4 linked regions of the Homo sapiens genome follow. The protein of the gene in region 3 interacts with the protein of the main gene of each other region in a biochemical or structural test. Each region holds a gene or a part of one and is shown on either strand. Other genes may lie near its edges. The genes, in order: CRYBG3, ARHGEF18, ZMYND11 and ZBTB38.

The links.
Region 1: the proteins of ZMYND11 (region 3) and CRYBG3 interact in a surface display test, tested with the Homo sapiens proteins (one large-scale study listed by IntAct).
Region 2: the proteins of ZMYND11 (region 3) and ARHGEF18 interact in a test that uses a peptide from one of them, tested with the Homo sapiens proteins (one large-scale study listed by BioGRID and IntAct).
Region 4: the proteins of ZMYND11 (region 3) and ZBTB38 interact in a surface display test, tested with the Homo sapiens proteins (one large-scale study listed by IntAct).

What each region holds. Positions count from the first base shown.
Region 1 is NC_000003.12:97,872,928-97,877,510, forward strand, and holds part of CRYBG3 (very large A-kinase anchor protein), read left to right. Parts: coding exon 1-4,583.
Region 2 is NC_000019.10:7,346,971-7,352,014, reverse strand, and holds the start of ARHGEF18 (rho guanine nucleotide exchange factor 18), read right to left. Parts: upstream 3,079-5,044; 5' UTR 2,774-3,078; intron 2,135-2,773; exon of another isoform or gene 1,972-2,134; intron 1-1,971. UniProt on the Homo sapiens protein: Acts as a guanine nucleotide exchange factor (GEF) for RhoA GTPases. Its activation induces formation of actin stress fibers. Also acts as a GEF for RAC1, inducing production of reactive oxygen species (ROS). Does not act as a GEF for CDC42.
Region 3 is NC_000010.11:252,796-256,220, forward strand, and holds the end of ZMYND11 (zinc finger MYND domain-containing protein 11), read left to right. Parts: 3' UTR 1-1,842; downstream 1,843-3,425. UniProt on the Homo sapiens protein: Chromatin reader that specifically recognizes and binds histone H3.3 trimethylated at 'Lys-36' (H3.3K36me3) and regulates RNA polymerase II elongation. Does not bind other histone H3 subtypes (H3.1 or H3.2).
Region 4 is NC_000003.12:141,371,200-141,375,782, forward strand, and holds part of ZBTB38 (zinc finger and BTB domain-containing protein 38), read left to right. Parts: intron 1-4,583. UniProt on the Homo sapiens protein: Transcriptional regulator with bimodal DNA-binding specificity. Binds with a higher affinity to methylated CpG dinucleotides in the consensus sequence 5'-CGCG-3' but can also bind to E-box elements (5'-CACGTG-3').

The sequences.
Region 1 (4,583 bases), on a different chromosome or scaffold from region 3:
TCCTCATATTAGAATGAATAAAAAAGACCTGGCCTCTTTAAATTACATCAGTGAATCAGCAGTTGTAGCAAGCTTAGGAAATGAAAATGCACCTGAGTTGAAATTTGAACTTAATAGAAGTCACATTTCAGAAACTCCTCTTGACTCTGAGAGTCCTCAACAAGCTGAAGTATCACCTGATGCTAAAACATCTCTTAGCCTTGACTGTAAAAAACTAAATTTCAGTATTTCACCTCCTACCTTTGTTTCTGGAGTTGGGATGCTGAGCAAGTTGGATATTCCTGATTTAATGAATGAGGGTTCTCCTGTGCCCATTGAAACTGGGAATGTCAACATTGTTGGTATTTCCTATCAGCCTAGGAAGTGTAAAGAAGAAAATGTGAAAAACCATGTTGAGGCTGCAGGCAGGAAGAGTCCTCCTCCTTCCTTTTGCCTTGAATATACATCTGCAATTTTTGAATTCAAAGAAGTTCTTTCTAATAGTGAAAAATGCCAGGTTCTTCCAGGTTCTGAAGCCAGTGGCCCTCACTTAACTGGGTTGGAGCTATTGAGCTTTGACTCTGGAAACCTCTCTAAGGATTGCAGTTCCATTTTATCTCAAGACCCTAATAGAGTAGAGTTAGTGTCTTCAAACACTAAAGCAAATATGAGCATAATAGAGAAGTCTGATTCTCTTTCCTTGGAAGCCAAAACTGCTAACATTGTATCAAAAGCTGAAATTGATGGTCAGAACAATGTTCTTGTGGAGTCACATTCTGGAAGAGGAAAAACTATATCCTTGTCCAAGGTATCTCTTTCAAAAGTGGAGCCCAGAAACATTTCTCAGGATAAAATGTCTTCTTTTCCATTGAAAATTACCCATGTTCCAGAAAAGCCTATTTTGTCAGAATTAACCTTTCTAGAAGTTGAACAGGGCAAACGTTTTCAATCAATTAATCATAATGAGATAGGAGAGAAATGTTCAGATGCTGGCCTTAAAGAGAATTGCCAAGCTGAGCTTTCTCCTGCTGCCTCCAAATATGAAGATAAGCCAGAACCAGAGGTAGATGCCTTAGGCTCTCCTCCTGCTCTTCTTAAAAGTAATATATCTTGGATTTTACCACCTATTCATGATGAAAAAATCAGTAGGCAAATGGCGCAGAATTGTGAAGCTCACACTTGTGTGTTTCATCAATCTTTGGATATTTGTGGGACTAAAAAGATTTCTGGTCACTCAGAAATGGCGGAACTCAGCTTAACTAATATTTCCCCTAAATTCCAAGAAACTGGCAGCATGAAAGTAAATTCACCTTTTCTGGATTCTGATTCCAGTTTGGAAAAAAATTCTTCTGCATCTGAGGACTCAAGCTTCCTTAAAGTACCTTCTGTGCTGAAATTGGAAAAGAAATCCTCATCTTACAGAAAGAAAGAGAACATCCATTTTTTAAATGGTGGTATTGATAGTGTGTCATCTTCCTCTAGTTACCCTGAAGAAGTTAGCATGATAGTAAATTCACATAAGCCCCAAAATAATTTGGATTCTATACAAGTTACCAAAGATCTCACACATGAAGGTACCTCTGTAACTAACCTGTTGTACCCTACTACCTCTTATTTGGAATTTGAAACGTCTGTCTCAATTGGGACAGAAGTAACCCCATTTCAGGAACATTTTGGGATTTATACTGGGAAGATATCCATTGATTTCCCAACTGCTGCCCAATTTGACAATCTCGTGGAAGCAGAGACTGGAGCAGTTGCTGGGCCTGCAGCGTCAGTTAACAGCTCAGGCCAACAGTGTTCTGAAGCCTCTGCTGAGCACATAGAAGCCAGGAGAAGAGCACATGACCAACTTTTGGACCTCAAAAGTAGTTTACTCAAAAAGGCCGATACATTGATTGGTGAGATTTTTAATTCTGTCAGGGAAGAACTAAAATTCAAACACACAGTGAGTACCTGCCAGGAGCATATAGCCATAGAAGGTATAATGAATCTGGGTACCCTGAAAGAAGACATCTCTGAGAAAAACCCATCAGAAGTGACACTAACAGAAATACAACAGACAGAGGGTTTGGAAGAGCAAGGCATGGAAAACATGTCAGAAGTCAAAGAGAAGCCCTGTGTTTCACCAACAGTTGGTGAGAAGAATCTTCTTGTTGATCCTAATAGTATGAATGTATCTTGTTTGTTAGAAGATAAAGCTAGGGAATTAGTCAATGAGATTATTTATGTAGCCCAAGAAAAATTGAGAAATGATACTTTTGAAGATACTGAGGATACTTGGGATTCTGAACTTCAGGCTAATACTTCAAAAATTCTGAACAGTGATAGTGTTAAGCCACATGATGTAGTTAGAGAGTTCTTGGTTTCAGAACAGCCAGTAAATCAAAGCACACAAATTAGTGAAAATAAAGTATTAAATGAATTCTTCTCCCTAAGTAACTTAGCTAGTGGCACAGAGTCAATTAAGGGAGGAGAAATTGTTCTCTACCAAAAATCCCTATTTTCTGGAAATGGATCTGGACTGTCTGATAGTATAAATTTGCAGGAATCAGATACGGTTTTACTAGCTGAAGACATGTCACATAAACGGTTAGATGATAGGGTAAAAACACATTTATTTCGCAGTGAGGACTGTAATGAGACAATGGAAATAGAGAATGTGGATAATAACAAAACTGAGACAGAGGACAGAAGAACTCTTGTATTAAATTTCAAATGGCCTCCACTTGTGAATGATGACATCCATGCACCTGGTACATCTAAAAGCAGTTTGTCTGATAGCCTTGTATGTATATCTGAAAAAAACTTGCCAGGACACAGTAAAAACACACCTCTTGCAATGTCAGATGTAGGGAAAGTACACAAGAAGGATAATGAAATAAATATAGGGAAAATTGAACTTATACCTTCCATGTTAGAAACAGGGAAAACAAACAAAAAGGATGCTGAATTGAATATTCTGAAATATGAGGCAGTCCCTCCTATGATAGAAATGGGAAGAATACATAAAATGGATGCTGAATTGAATGTCACGAAAACTGAGCCAAAAGCTAATGTTTTTAAAATGGGAGAAGTATACCAAATGGATGCCGAGAGCTGTATTGAAAAAACTGAGGGATCAGCTGTCATTTTAGGAATGGAAAAAGCTTATAAGATGAAGGATACTGAAGGGGATATTGGCAAAATTGAGGTGATACCTATGATGCCAGAAGTGAAAAATATCCACCAAAAGGATGCTGAAGGGGATATTGTAAAGACTGAGATGACACCTGTTACAGTAGACATGGAAAATATTTACCAAACGCATGCTGAAGGGGATATTGGCAAGACTGGGACGATAGCCTTGTCAGAAGTGGAAAATATCCACCAAAAAGGTGGTGAAGGGATTAGTGAAAAGGCTGAAGTGATACCCGTTACATTAGCAATGGAAAATACTTACCAAAAGGATGCTGAAGGGGATATTGGAAAGGCTGAAGTGATGCCTGTGAGGTTAGAAATGGAAAATACTTACCCAAAGGATACTGAAAGAGACGGTGGCAAAACTGAGGTGATGCCCCTTGCATTAGAGGTAGTAAATACTTACCAAAAAAATGCCAAAGGTTTTACCGGGAACACTGAAGGGTCTGTGTTGAAAATGGAAGCTACTTACCGAAAGACTGCTGAAGAGGTCATTAAGAATACTGAAATAGTACCGTGTGTGTTAAAAGTGAAGGAAGCACACGAGACAGCACCTGCCCCCTTAGAAATGGAAAAAGCATGCAAGAGAGATGTTAAAGAGACTATTGGAGCAACTGTGTCCACACCCTCTGTGATAGAAATGGAAAAAATATCCCCAGAAGATCGTGGTGAGAATATTGGGAAACACAAAGTGTTACCCGCAGTGGTAGACATTGAGAAAATACATGGAACAGGACTAGAATTGACCACTAAACAAGGGGAGGCCATGCTTCCTGCATTTGAAAGTAAAACACCACAAGAGTATGCTGAAGGGAGTGTTGAAGAAACAAAGGAAGAGCCTACAGAAATAAAGGAAGGCTTGATAGCACATGAAAATAGACTTCCTACATATTTCAGGGGATATGAATCCCCTACATTAAGTAAGGATTATGAGGGCTACCCAGCCCCAGCAATGCCAGATTTTCAACCTGGGGATACCACAGTAAGACTAGACAAAAGAATGTCTCTTACTGCAATATATGACAAGAGGAGAGAGACAGATTATAGTGACAAAGGATATAATTTAGCTTTTGTTTCTCAAGATGAACAAGAAAATTCTTCCTTTACTATATTATACGAAGAGCCCCTTCAAGAGGAGGACAAGTATGCTTCCGCAGAAGCAAGACAAACACAGTCTGTCTTGTTTCATGATACGTCCGCTGACAGCATGCCTGTTCTGGCATGTGAAAGGTCTGAGAGTAGAACTGACCTTGTCCATCACTTTGAAAAAGGTACTAAATTAGGTGAGACATTTGATAGTGATAGTTCAGAAATGTTCTTATCAGTGGAGGCCAAAAGGTACAAAATTTATCCTTTAGCATTGTCTCCCATTTATGAGGATGACAGCTCACAGGAGGACATTCTATCTAGTGAGGTTTCACCTG
Region 2 (5,044 bases), on a different chromosome or scaffold from region 3:
CTAGAATTAAAAATACAACAGGCCAGGTGCAGTGGCTTACATCTGTAATCCCAGCACTTTGGGAGGCCAAGGCAGGTGGATCACCTGAGGTCAGGAATTCAAGACCAGCCTGGGTAACATGGTGAAACCCTGTCTCTACTAAAACTACTAAAATTAGCCAGGTGTGGTGGTATGCATTTATAATCCCAGCTACTCAGGAGGCTGAGGCAGGAGAACTGCTTGAACCCAGGAGGTGGAGGTTGCAGTGAGCTGAGACTGTGCCACTGCACTCCAGCCTGGGCAACTCTGTCTCAGAAAAAAAAAAAAAAAAGAGAGAGAGAGAGAGGCAGAGAGAAAATACAGTAGCATATGATACAGGGATGGCTGGATGGGATCCTTAAGAAGTCCACTCTAGCTGGGCACAGTGGGTCATGCCTGTAATCCCAGCACTTTGGGAGGCTGAGGTGGGGGGATCACAAGGTCAGGAGATCAAGACCATCCTGGCTAACACGGTGAAACCCCGTCTCTATTAAAAATACATAAAATTAGCCGGGCATGGTGGCGGGCGCCTGTAGTCCCAGCTACTTGGGAGGCTGAGGCAGGAGAATGGCGTGAACCCGGGAGGTGGAGCTTGCAGTGAGCCGAGATCGTGCCACTGCACTCCAGCCTGGGCAATAGAACAAGACTCCATCTCAAAACAAACAAACAAACAAACAAACAAACAAACAAAAGAAGTCCACTCTAGCAGACTTGCTTACAGATTGAGATCCACCATGGGTATGACCCAGAACATTTCAGAAGATGGTGGGACTGCTCAGGAAGGAAGGCCTGGGGACAAGGTCAGTATGAAGGCATAGGTGAGGCTGACAATGTTTTCTGATCTATTACGTGCCAGACACTGCACTAAGATCTCACAGACCAAACTTCATAAAGGCTGAGCGAGGTGGTTCATGCCTGTAATCCCAGCACTTTGGGAGGCCAAGGCAGGCAGATCACCTGAGGTCAGGAGTTCAAGACCAGCCTAACCAATATGGTGAAACCCTGTCTCTACTAAAAATACAAAAATTAGCTGGGCATGGAGGCGTGTGCCTGTAATCCCAGCTACTTGGGAGGCTGAGGCAGGAGAATTGCTTAAACCCGAGAGGCGGAGGTTGCAGTGAGCTGAGATTGCACCAATGTACTCCAGCCTGGGCGATAGAGCAAGATTCTATCTCCAACACACACACACACACACACACACACACACACACACACACACACACACACACCCACCCCAAAAAACTCAACAGCCTTTTAACAGATGAGCAAACGAAAGCTCAGAGCAGTTAAGTCATTTGCCCAAGGCCACATAGAGGCCAGGGAACTGGGATTTGAACGCCCAGCTGTCCAACACAGTCACCATGTCATCTACAACAGTATCGAGCATCAACATATGCCCATCCCTTTGTCATGGGCTAGGGGATGCCCAGGGAGGCATGGGAGACAGCCCAGACCAGAAGCACCGACGTGTTTGCAGTTGCCATCTACTGGTTCTTCAAGGCATAATGAAAAGGCTGCCTCTACCAAGCAGCCCTCCCAGAGTGACTCCCAGTCACAGCAAGGGAGTTGAAATGTGGCTGATTATGAGGGCAACCCTTTCCTGACCTCCTTTGGTTGTCATGTTCTTTTCTCAGAACTGCAGGTGACCTGGCCTTGGAGCATCAGCCCCCAGCGTCACTTCCTAGCTCCATCCTCTCTGGCCCCAGCTGTCCACTCTAGCTCAATTCACTCCCTCCTGGTTCTGGGGCCACCTTCCTAGACCTCAGGGTGCCTGAAGCCTGCCCTGCAGCATTGGGGGCTGGCAGGAAACAACAGACTGGGTGTGCCCAGCAGAAACCGCAGCCTTCCTCCCCCACCCCTCCCAGTCCCAGGCAGGCGGTGGTGCAGGAGGTCCCCCTAAGAAGGGGCCACGAGAGGAGACAGGGGATGTCTCCCAAGGGGGAGAACCCTCACCTGGAGGAAGGCTGCCTGGGTGGAGGGATGTGCTCTCTGGATGATTTCAGATCAGGACAAGACCCTTCTCAGGGCTGGTTGTCAGCCATCAGCCTTAAGTGTGAGTTTGTTTTGACAGTGGATTCAGAATCTGCAACAGGGAGGTTCTTGGGGGGCCCGGAATCTGCAGTTTAAGATGCAAAGGGCACCTGAGCCTTTGCCCCAGCTCCCCCATTCATTCTCTGTCTCCTGTCTCCACGCAGGAGGGCCTTGGCTACAAGGAGCTCTATCGTCCTTTCTTTGCTTTTCTTTTTCTTTTCTTTGTTTTGAGACTGAGAGGCTCACTTCAACCTCTACCTCCCGGGTTCAAGCCATTCTCCTGCCTCAGCCTCCCGAGTAGCTGAGATTACAGCTGCCCGCCACCACGCCTGGCTAATTTTTGTATTTTTAGTAGAGACGGGGTTTCACCATGTTGGCCGGGCTGGTCTCCAACTCTTGACCTCAAGTGATCCGCCCTCCTCAGCCTCCCAAAGTGCTAGGATTACAGGTGTGAGCCACCGCGCCCGGCCTCCACCCTCCTTTCTTACCTAGCAGCCCCTCAAGGATCCCCGTCCCCTGGGGTGACCTCTTATGACCACAGATCTCTGCACAATGAACGCAAGGGTCAAACAGCTTCCCCCACCCACTCAGGAAGCAAGTTGACTGCAAGGGGGAGAGAAACAGTGATGTATGTCTGCTCGCTGTCCCCCTAGACTTCCCAGACCCCACTGCCACTCTGTCCCGATGGGTCCATCTCTCTCCACTTCCCAGGATAAGTACTTACCAGATAGAGCTCAGTTCTTCAACCTGCAGGCACCTAGCCTGGCTAACAGCTCCTGCAGCTCCCATGACCTACGGCCAGCGTTTCGAGCTGGCCCAAGGGAACCGCTGGCTGGGTAGAGCCTGGGATAACCACAGAATGACCCAATAGCACCTCGACTTCCTCTTTCTCAACTGCCTGCCTGCATGCTTGCCACTCTGCTCCCAGCTGCAGGCCAATCTAGGGGCCTAAAAAGAGCCCAGAGGATGGGGGTTCTGGAGGCAGAGAGCCCTGCTCCCACCCCTCAGCCCTGCGCATGCAGGTGTCTTGAGGAGGAGGGGTGGGGAGCTGGAGGGAGGCCCAGCGTCCTCAACCCCCACCCCAGCAGCTTCCTGTGGAACCAACTGCTGAAGAGGAACAGGGTGTGGGGGCCTCACCCAGGCACATGGGTGTATAGACAGCAACATATAGGGACGTGCAGGTCATGTGTATCCGTAGAGACTCAGGCACCCAGACACACACCAGCATGGTGGGTACACACAGAGAGACAGAAACACACGTGGCTACATTGTTACATGGGTACCTGGAAGCTGGCGGAACAACATGGTGTGCTGGTAACGTTTAACAACCACCTCTCCGATTTGTAGCCATTGCCAATTCTCCTGGTGTAAATACCCCCAGCATGGCCGATTTCACCTACCAGTGTGATGTCACCGAGTGTGGAGTTGATAGGAAATGCTCAGATTTGGCTTTTTTTAGAAAACAACAACAACAACAACAAAAAACTGTTTATTTTATTTTTAGAGATAGGGTCTCATTCTGTCATCCAGTCTGGAGTGCAGTGGAAAAATCATAGCTCACTGCAGCCTCAATCTCTTGGGCTCAAGTGATCCTTCTGCTTCAGCCTCCTGAGTAGTTGGGATTACAGGCACATGCCACCATGCCTGGCTAAGTTTTTTGTTTACAGATAATTTATGTATAATTTATATATACTTTATATATAATTATATATGGATTATATATAGACTTATATATAATTTATATATAATTTTTTATATATAATTTTTCTTTTGAGACAGGCTCTCACTCTGTCATCCAGGCTGGAGTGCAGTGGGGGTGATTTTGGTTCATTGCAACCTCCATCCCCTGGGCTCAAGTGATCCTCCCACCTCCGCCTCCTGAGTAGCTGGGACCACAGGCACACATCACCACGCCTGGCTATTTTTTTTTGGTTTGTATTTTTAGTACAGACAGGGTCTCACCATATTGCCCAGGCTGGTCTCGAACTCCTGGGCTCAAGCAATCCTCCCACCTTGGCCTCCCAAAGTGCTGGGATTAGAGGCACGAGACATGGCGCCCAGCCTAAGTTAATTTTTTTTTTTTGTAGAGACAGGGATTTTATTATGTTTCCCAGGCTGGTCTCAAACTCCTGGGCTCAAGCAGTCCACCCGCCTTGGCCTCCCAAAGTGCTGGGATTACAGGCATGAGCCATGATGCTCCACTAAACTTGGCTCTTGGGCTGGCTTCAGCCTGTCACTGGAGTGAGTACTCTACAAAAAATTTAAAACTTCGCCACATTTGGTGGTGCCTGCCTGCAGTCCCAGCCGCTCCGGAGGCTGAGGCGGGGAGGCTCACTTGAGCCCAGGTGTTCAAAGCTGCAGTGACCTATAATTGTGCCACCGTACTCCAGCCTGGGTGACAGAGTGAAATCCCATTTTTTTTAAAGAAAGTTAAAATGGTAAATTTTACGTTATGCCTATTTTACCACATTTAAATTAATCACTTTAACATTATTTTTGCTGCATTTTCCATAATCTATGCTTTTTTTCCTTTTCCTTTTTTTTTTTTTTTTTTTTTTTTTTTTTTTTTTGAGATGGAGTCTTGCTCTGTTGCCCGGGCTGGAGTGCAGTGGTGCAATCTCAGCTCACTGCAACCTCTGCCTCCTGGGTTCAAGTGATTCTCCTGCCTCAGCCTCCCAGGTAGCTGGGATTATAGGTGACCCCCACCACACCAGGCTAATTTTTGTATTTTTAGTAGAGACGGGATTTCACTATGTTGGCCAGGCTGGTCTCGAACTCCGGACCTCAGAGGATTCGCCCACCTCAGCCTCCGGAAGTGCTGGGGTTACAGGTGTGAGCCACCACACCTGGCCTCATAATCTATGCTTTTGATGTTGCTTTTGTGTATGGAACCTGTTTGGTAGAAATACTGTATAATGGTTTGCTGCTGTCCATATCTTTCTGACTCACTGTTCGGTGGCATCACTTGAAATTGGCTGTGGCGAGAGTATTTACA
Region 3 (3,425 bases):
AATACAAGTGAGTTTAACAAAGAAACATTTAGAATAGATCTGAATGTAAGAACTACAGAACTGTTTCAGAAATAAAACATACTACCTTGATGTGACATTTTTTTCTTAACCTTGTTGAGCTGGTTTTGTTCAGCTTAATTTACTGTTCAAAGGCATTATCTGTTGGTCACACCAGTGGGTATATGATTGAATTTAGGGAACAGGGTTGACACAGCAGGGCTAGTCCTGCATATTTTTTCTTAAATATTTCCCAATTGTGTTTTTCATTATTTCTTTTCAATATATAACTTTTATAACAAATTATTAGCTTTGATCTTGTAGTTTAAAATTGCAGGGAACTGGGGTAATCTTTTACTGAGCTGGATCTTAGAGAAAATGAATATTTAAATTTTAAAGTTTGCACATTTCATCTTTGTCCTAACATGAGTGCTTGTAACAAAATAAACAACAAAAACAAAGCCAAAAACTACCTTTATCCATATGTGAAATTATAGATGAGGCATACGAATTTGTTTAATGCTTCCCTTCCCTTCCCACATATCATCTCACTGCCTATTATCTGGTGTCACCTCATGTATCGTAAGTTAATACTAAAAGAAGAGAAAGCACTTAAGTTTCACAGAAGCCGTTATGTTTGTAGTAATGGGTCATTGCCTACTAATGAACTCCATCACTGTACACAGAATGAAGAATAATGCATGTTAATTTTCTTGTATTAAAGATGCCGTGATTTGTAAAAAGTCTGTATTTTGCGGAATGTCTGGATTAAGAAGCATTACCAATAGGAATGGATCGATAGTTGAATAATGATTTTTTATACATAGATATATAAAATACAGCCAGGAAAACTTAAATTACTTTTCTTTTAAAATATCTCACAATTTATGTGGTATTTTTAAAGACTGATCTTAGACCAAGTCAAATTCCCATTTATCATTTAGTTATTTTTTGAGGTTAGAGAATAATTTGTACATATTTATTTAGACCTTTGATATTTATTAAAGCAATTACTCACAATGGAAGTGAAAGAATCAGGAGAAAAGCCTTTTAAAAAGTATTCTCCAGGTTTGTCAGGGTCACTCTAAAGATAAAAATGTAACTAAGTCTTCTGTGAAATATCATCCATCTAATCTTGATGCTGTTGCAGATGGTGGTGACACAAGTTAATTGACAAACTACTGCCAAATGGTGCACAATATTTTGTAAAAAGTACCCAGTAGCCCCATTTCATACAATGTACCTAAATTATGCAGTAACTTGGCATCATCGTTCCCTCCTTGTTGCTGTGTAATTAGTCAGTGTTGCCACAGTGTGTGGCGCTGATGGAGATGTCAGAACCGAGAACACTTAACCTTCTTTGATTGTTTTTCAAGTTTTAAGACTTCGATCCACCCCTATGAGAGCAAGTAATTGTGGAAATATTTTTGGTGTAAAATCATTCCAGAGTATGTAATATTTAACTGATAGCTGCATGAAAGTGAGATTCGTGTTACTTTGGCTTTTCTGTCTCTGTTGACACGGTTGCACATTTCCAAGTTACTACAGCGTGAAAACTGTGTGTTTAAAAAAAAACAAAATTAAAAAAAGAGATTGTGGCCTGGTTTTGTAAAAGTTTTAGGTAAAATTACAATTGATTGTTTTAGGAATCATTATTAAAAATTTTCTGCAAATCATAAAGCTATATCGAGGTGTTGAGCTTAGCCACTATGCACATTGTAATTATTCATTGTGGCTGTCCAGTTCTATGATGCATTCTGGCATTTTGTAAGCTGCTCTGACTAGCAATATATAGATTCATTTAATGTGTTAACATTGGTTAATAAATGTATTTAAAAAAAACTAGCTTTAGTAATTTGTTTATTTAGTGTAGTCCCCTATACCCAACCAAATACTACCGTCGCTAAATGTTGATCACATACTGTGGGTCACTCTTTAGTGACTGCTTAACTTTATATAAAATCAGTGTGTTAAACATCATTTGTTCACTTAAACGTATAAATTGAATTTACTTTCACCAGATCTCAAAAAGACCATACATGATATAATAAGGAGAGGATGATTATTATATCAGCTGCATATCAATTATTGCAAATCAGCCTGAAAAACAGATACACAACTCAGAATGGAATAGATTCTTAATTGGAGGCCAGCTGAGGCTAACCCTCTGCTGTTTTCATCTACTTCTTGGTATGGTAGTTGTGGGTAGTTGACCAGCCCCAGGTCTTAGTGCCAACATTAACCCAGCCTTAGTCGGTACTCTGGTTTTCATCATTCATGCCATCATTCATCATTCATGTGATAGACGTATCACAACTGGGATCAGATGGTTTAGGTCTGAATATTAAAGTCCCAGTTCCTGTAGGATTGTAAAGTTTCCAACAGTAGTAGTAGTATCATTCTATTCACCCTCATTTTGTCTTTGTTCTTCTAGATATATTTTCCTAAGCAACAGGCTTACTGGTCCTCAAAAATGAGGTGTCGGCCAGGCGTGGTGGCTCATGCCTGTAATCCCAGCACTTTGGGAGACCAAGGTGGGTGGATCACCTGAAGTCAGGAGTTCGAGACCAGCCTGGCCAACATGGTGAAACCCTGTCTGTACAAAAATACAAAAAAAATTAGCCGGGCATGAAGGCAGGTGCCTGTAATCCCAGCTACTTGGGAGGCTGAGGCGGGAGAATCTCTTGAACCTGGGAGGCAGAGGTTGCAGTGAGCCGAGATCACCCGATTGCACTCCAGCCTGGCTGGGCAACACAGCGAGACTCCATCTCAAAAAAAAAAAAAGTGTCACTTGTTATTTTATGAAATGCCAACTCTGATTCTAGACCTTAATTATTAGAATTGTGTTCTAAAAGTCTTTTCAATAAAAAAATTCCAACTGACAAATATGAAACCCATATCTATAATACATGAGTATCACTAAAAATTTCAGTCATTGATGACAGCAAAGTGAAAGAAGGCCTCTAGGAGGGTGTATGGAGTGAGTGAAGTGACAAGGTTGCTTCTGTAATTGGGGGCGACCAAATTGAAGTAGTGAAGCAAGTGGCTTAGAGAATAAAAAGCATTTTGCCACATTCCAATATTAAAAGAAAATAAAACTAGAAATAGGATACTTGTGTGAAAGTGATCTTTTCATAAACAAGAAGGAAAAGTGTGCAACTGGAGGAAAGTAATAGCTTTGGTCGGGCTACTCAAGACAAGATAGGTGTAAACAGGGAAGTTTAAAAAGATGTAATAACTTGCTCAGATTTACCCAGTAGGTCAGTCTCAAGCTCAGTTCTGTTTGATTGTAAAACCCATTTTCTTAACTCTTACGCTAGGCTGAATATATGGATAGAAAATTATTTGACAAACATTTGAAATTGAAGTCATCAAGTTCAATACATCTGGAATCAAACCCATCACCTTCCCCTGCCTCACTCCACTTC
Region 4 (4,583 bases), on a different chromosome or scaffold from region 3:
GCACCACCACACCCAGCTAATTTTTGTATTTTTAGTAGAGATGGGGTTTCACCATGTTGGCCAGGATGGTCTCCATCTCTTGACCTCGTGATCTGCCGGCCTTGGCCTGCCAAAGTGCTGAGATTACAGACATGAGCCATAGCGCCCAGCCGAGAAACTTTTTTTTTCTTTGAGACAGGGTTTCACTCTGTCACCCAGGCTGGAGTGCAGTGGCACGATCATGGCTCACTGCAGCCTCAACTTCTCAGGCTCAAGCGATCCTCCCAAGTAGCTGAGACTACAGGCATGTGTCACCATGCCTGGCTAATTTTTGTATTTTTTGTAGAAACAAGGTTTCACCATGTTGCCCAGGCTGGTCTTGAACTCCTGGGCTCAAGCAATCCACCACCCACCTTGGCCTCCCAAAGTGCTAGGATAACAGGCATGAGCCACCGGGCCCAGCCGAGAAACATTTAAAAGTAGACTAAAAAGTCTCAGGCTGGGGCTATTAATGCTACCCCAAAAGATGTGATATATATGTCTAGCTTTTTATTTTCAGGAAAAGTTTCAAAACATTTACTGAAATAATAAGTGGTAAAGTTGTAAGCTCTGTTTGGAGAACTTTTAATAAGTTTAACATTTTATGTAACCTTCTAACCATTGTTGATGTTGGTGAAGTATTCCCCTCATTCGTAAATATAAACCATATGATGGGTGCCTTGTGATGCCCCAGACTTAAAGGTGTGAAATAAAAATGAACTCAAGTCTTTGCCTGAGGTGCCTGGTACCTAGTTCTCTAGTTTTGTCAATATCTGACTAAACACTCTGGTTTCTGATTGACTTTTGCCCCTGGACTTGACCTTTCTGGCACCCACATCCACACCCTGAAGAGCATGTATTGTCTGTTGTGTGGGGATACCTGTTACTGGCCAATTTGCCACAGCTTCTCAGATATCTGACAGAGGCTGATGCCTGGCCTACTCTCCTGTTATGGCTGCCTAGCCTCTGCCCAGTCCCCTTACATTAGGATGGAGCTGAGGAGGAATGGAATAGAATAACAAGATGAGTTGCTGCAAAAATACTTCAGCCTCTGAAAGTCTGTCTTTCCAAGTTGTTAGGAACTGAAAGTGTCTATTGATCGGGGAGCTGGCTGGGCTAGTGGTATAAGCTAATGATAAGACCAGGTTGGGCTGGGCATGGTGGCTCATGCCTATAATCCCTGCACTTTGGGAGGCCGAGGCAGGTGGATCACTTGAGGTCAGGAGTTCAAGACCAGCCTGACCAACATGGTGAAACCCCATCTCTACTAAAAAAAAATACAAAATTAGCCGAGCAGGGTGGCGCACACCTATAATCCCAGCTACTTGGGAGGCTGAGGCAGGGGAATTGCTTGAACCTGGGAGGCAGAGGTTGCAGTGAACCGAGATCACACCACAGGACTCCGGCCTGGGCAACAAGAGAGAAACTCCATCTCCAAAAAAAAAAAAAAAGACCAGGTGAATGGGGAATACAGTGCCTGCTAGAAGGGTGCAGTTGAAGGAATAAGTTAAGAATATGTGCCAGATTTCAAAAGCTGGAGCCAAATGGGGATGATGTGTTGCTGGAAGTCCTAGCCTAACAGAGTCTTTCAGGAAGGGCAGAGCCAAAGGTCTCAGTCAACATCAGGGTCCATTCATGTGGGAGAATGGCTAATCACAGCTTGCTAATTTCAACTACCATCTGTTATGACTCCTCAAAGCACTAAGTATGCAGTAGTTGACATATGAATGGTGTTAGGGTTGGGGGAGGGGGCCAGCCTCCTGATTTCTAATTTCTAGCTGCATATTACTACAGGAAGGGGAGTAAGACCACCACATCAGGTACCAGAATTTCACTACTGTCAACACTTTGTGTTTGAAAGAAAGCCATAGATCCCTGTGACCACTGGATGCTGAGTGACCTCACAGACAACATCAGCAAAGCAGGATTGTGTACAAACACACATTTTGTAAATATTTTGATATTTGACATTTCAAAAAAAGCATCAAAGGAGACAGCCTGGGAAAAGTTAGACTTTGTTGAGCTTTCTCAACCTTAATTTTGTATTTTGTTATTTTTTTCTATTTTAATTTCACATGGGAGTAATAATTCAAATTTGAGGCACTATAGTCTTTTCAGAGCTTAGGTCATCTAAAGATCTGAGCCTGGCCTTGTTGAGCCATGATGAGCAGATGTGGACTGAGCACACAGTCTCACACAGGCAGCTCTTACACTAGTTGAGTATTTTAATCCCTGAGGTTTTAGAATTGTCATAGCACAGGTGTGCAAGCTCCTTTCTCCCCATGGGTCAGCATCATGAATGTTCTGTCACTCTCCTTAGAGAGTTTTGCAGAAATACCACATCATATTCACCAAAACTAAGAATTCATAGTAATAGGGCTTTATAATTTCTCACACTGAAATCCCCTAATTTCTTGTCAAGAACCAAGTTGGAAAATACCACACTTCAGGGTTTTGTTTTTAACTCAAGAAGCTTCTGGTTTTCATCAGAACTTTAAAGCTCCCTCCTACCTCCAAAATAGTATTGTTAGAAAATGTAATGCTGAGACTCTGTCAGAATAAGTAGGTGATATATGCAAAATGATATGGGCAACTTAGAAAAGTGCATGTCAAGGTAAACTGCTGATAAAGGCCGGGAGTGGTGGCTCACACCGGAAATCCCAGCACTTTGGGAGGCTGAGGTGCGCAGATTGCTTGAGGCCAGGAGTTCAAGACCAGCCCAGCCAAAATCGTGAAGCCCTGCCTCTACTAAAAATACAAAAATTAGCTGGGCTTGGTGGCACATGCCTGTAATCCCAGCTTCTTGGGAGGCTGAGGTATGAGAATTGGTTGAACCCAGGAGGCGGAGGTTGTGGTGAGCCACGACTGGGCCACTGTACTCCAGCCTAGGCAACAGAGGAAAAAAAAAAAAAAGTGTTGATAAAAAATAATCATCATAATTATGGTCAGTATTGGTGCTTTGACTTTTGATATTGTTATTATCATTATTTTAAAGATTTTTTTGTCTTTCTAAATTGACTTTCATCTGGGAGCCTTAGCATCACTTCTAACTAGCCAAAGCATGTTTGATTGTAGGCCAGACTCCCCATGGAGAGGCTTCTGATCTTATTCACAGGGACATTTAACCTGGGGTTCACTGAAACCTTTGAGGAATGATGGATGAGTCATCTCTCTGCCAAAAGAAGATGATTCCTGGCATTCTATGGGGCTCCCAGTGCATTGGGATAAGGAGGCTTGGAAACTCCTCCACGGAGGCATTGACCTTGGGTAGTGCCTTCCAAGCCAGAGTGGAGAGAGTGGACCCCTCATCTTTGTCCAAAAGAGCATTAGTATAACCCCTCACCCCAACCCCACCCCATTCTCTCCTTTTTAAAAAGAGAGAAGAATATATACAAGAAAAAAATTGGAAAAAATACATCAAAATGTTAAAAATTGTTGAGATGGTATTTTATGTGGTGTTTTGCCCCCATTTAACATTATGTTGTAAACATTTTACCAAATCACTAGATGGTCTTTGAAAACATGATTTTTAATGGCTCTATTTCCATTGCACTGATACATTTTAATGTATCAGTTTTTTGTTGTTGGACATTTTGATTCACTTTAGTGTTCTACTATTTTTAAAGTTTCTAATGCATATTGGTGAATTGGCCCCTAGAAAGGTACGAATGTCTATTTCAAAACCTTGGTCTTTTTTAGTTTCTCACATTAAAATGCATGCTGCTAGGCCCCAGTGGTATTGGAAGCTCTGAGGAGGAGCCTGGGGATATGCATTTTAACCTGCCCTCCCAATTCTTCTGCATTAATGCCTGAGAACTATTGACATGCTGCATTCAGTTCAACAAATATTCAGTTGGCAAACATTTATTAGACAAAAAAAATTAGGAAACTCTGAGCTAGTATGTCTATGCCAGAATTTAACTTAAAGTCTTTTTTTGGCTTCTGATTTTTAGATTTTCCTTTAACTGTAATATGATGTAGTAAAAAGATTATTAGCTAGGGAATCAAGAAACCATATTGTACACATGAAATCACTGAGGCCCATAATGGTTCATTTACTTCCTGGTGGTCACTCAGAGATTTAATGGCAAAGGTTGAACTAGACAAAGGGCCCAGAGTCACCCAACCTTTAGGTAAGAGACAAAAGGCGCCAATGAGAAGATTCACTCCTGAGGCAACGCCCTGCCTCAGCCAAGGAGCTCTTACCTGCCCTCAGATAGGCATGCCCGTACTTCAAGACACTCTTGGGCAGCCTAGACCTAGCAAGGGGCCCACGTGCCCATCTTGGTCACCTAATGGGGCCAGACTGTGGTGTGCCCTGATCCCTGAGGTGGTAGCACTGAAGAAGCTGGACCCAGGAGGACAGAGGGCAGCCGTGCAGGCAGCATCCATGTGATCAGCATCACAAGAGCAGAGTAGGAGGTGGGATCTGGGGTCAGAAACCAAGACAGCGGAGCAGGGTCAGGGCAAGTGCCAGACTAAAATATGTGGGCAAATTTGAGGTCAAGGCAGGGATGAGTTGAAAGGAAGACAAGCAAGAGCTAGAGGGGAACTGCTGAGGATTT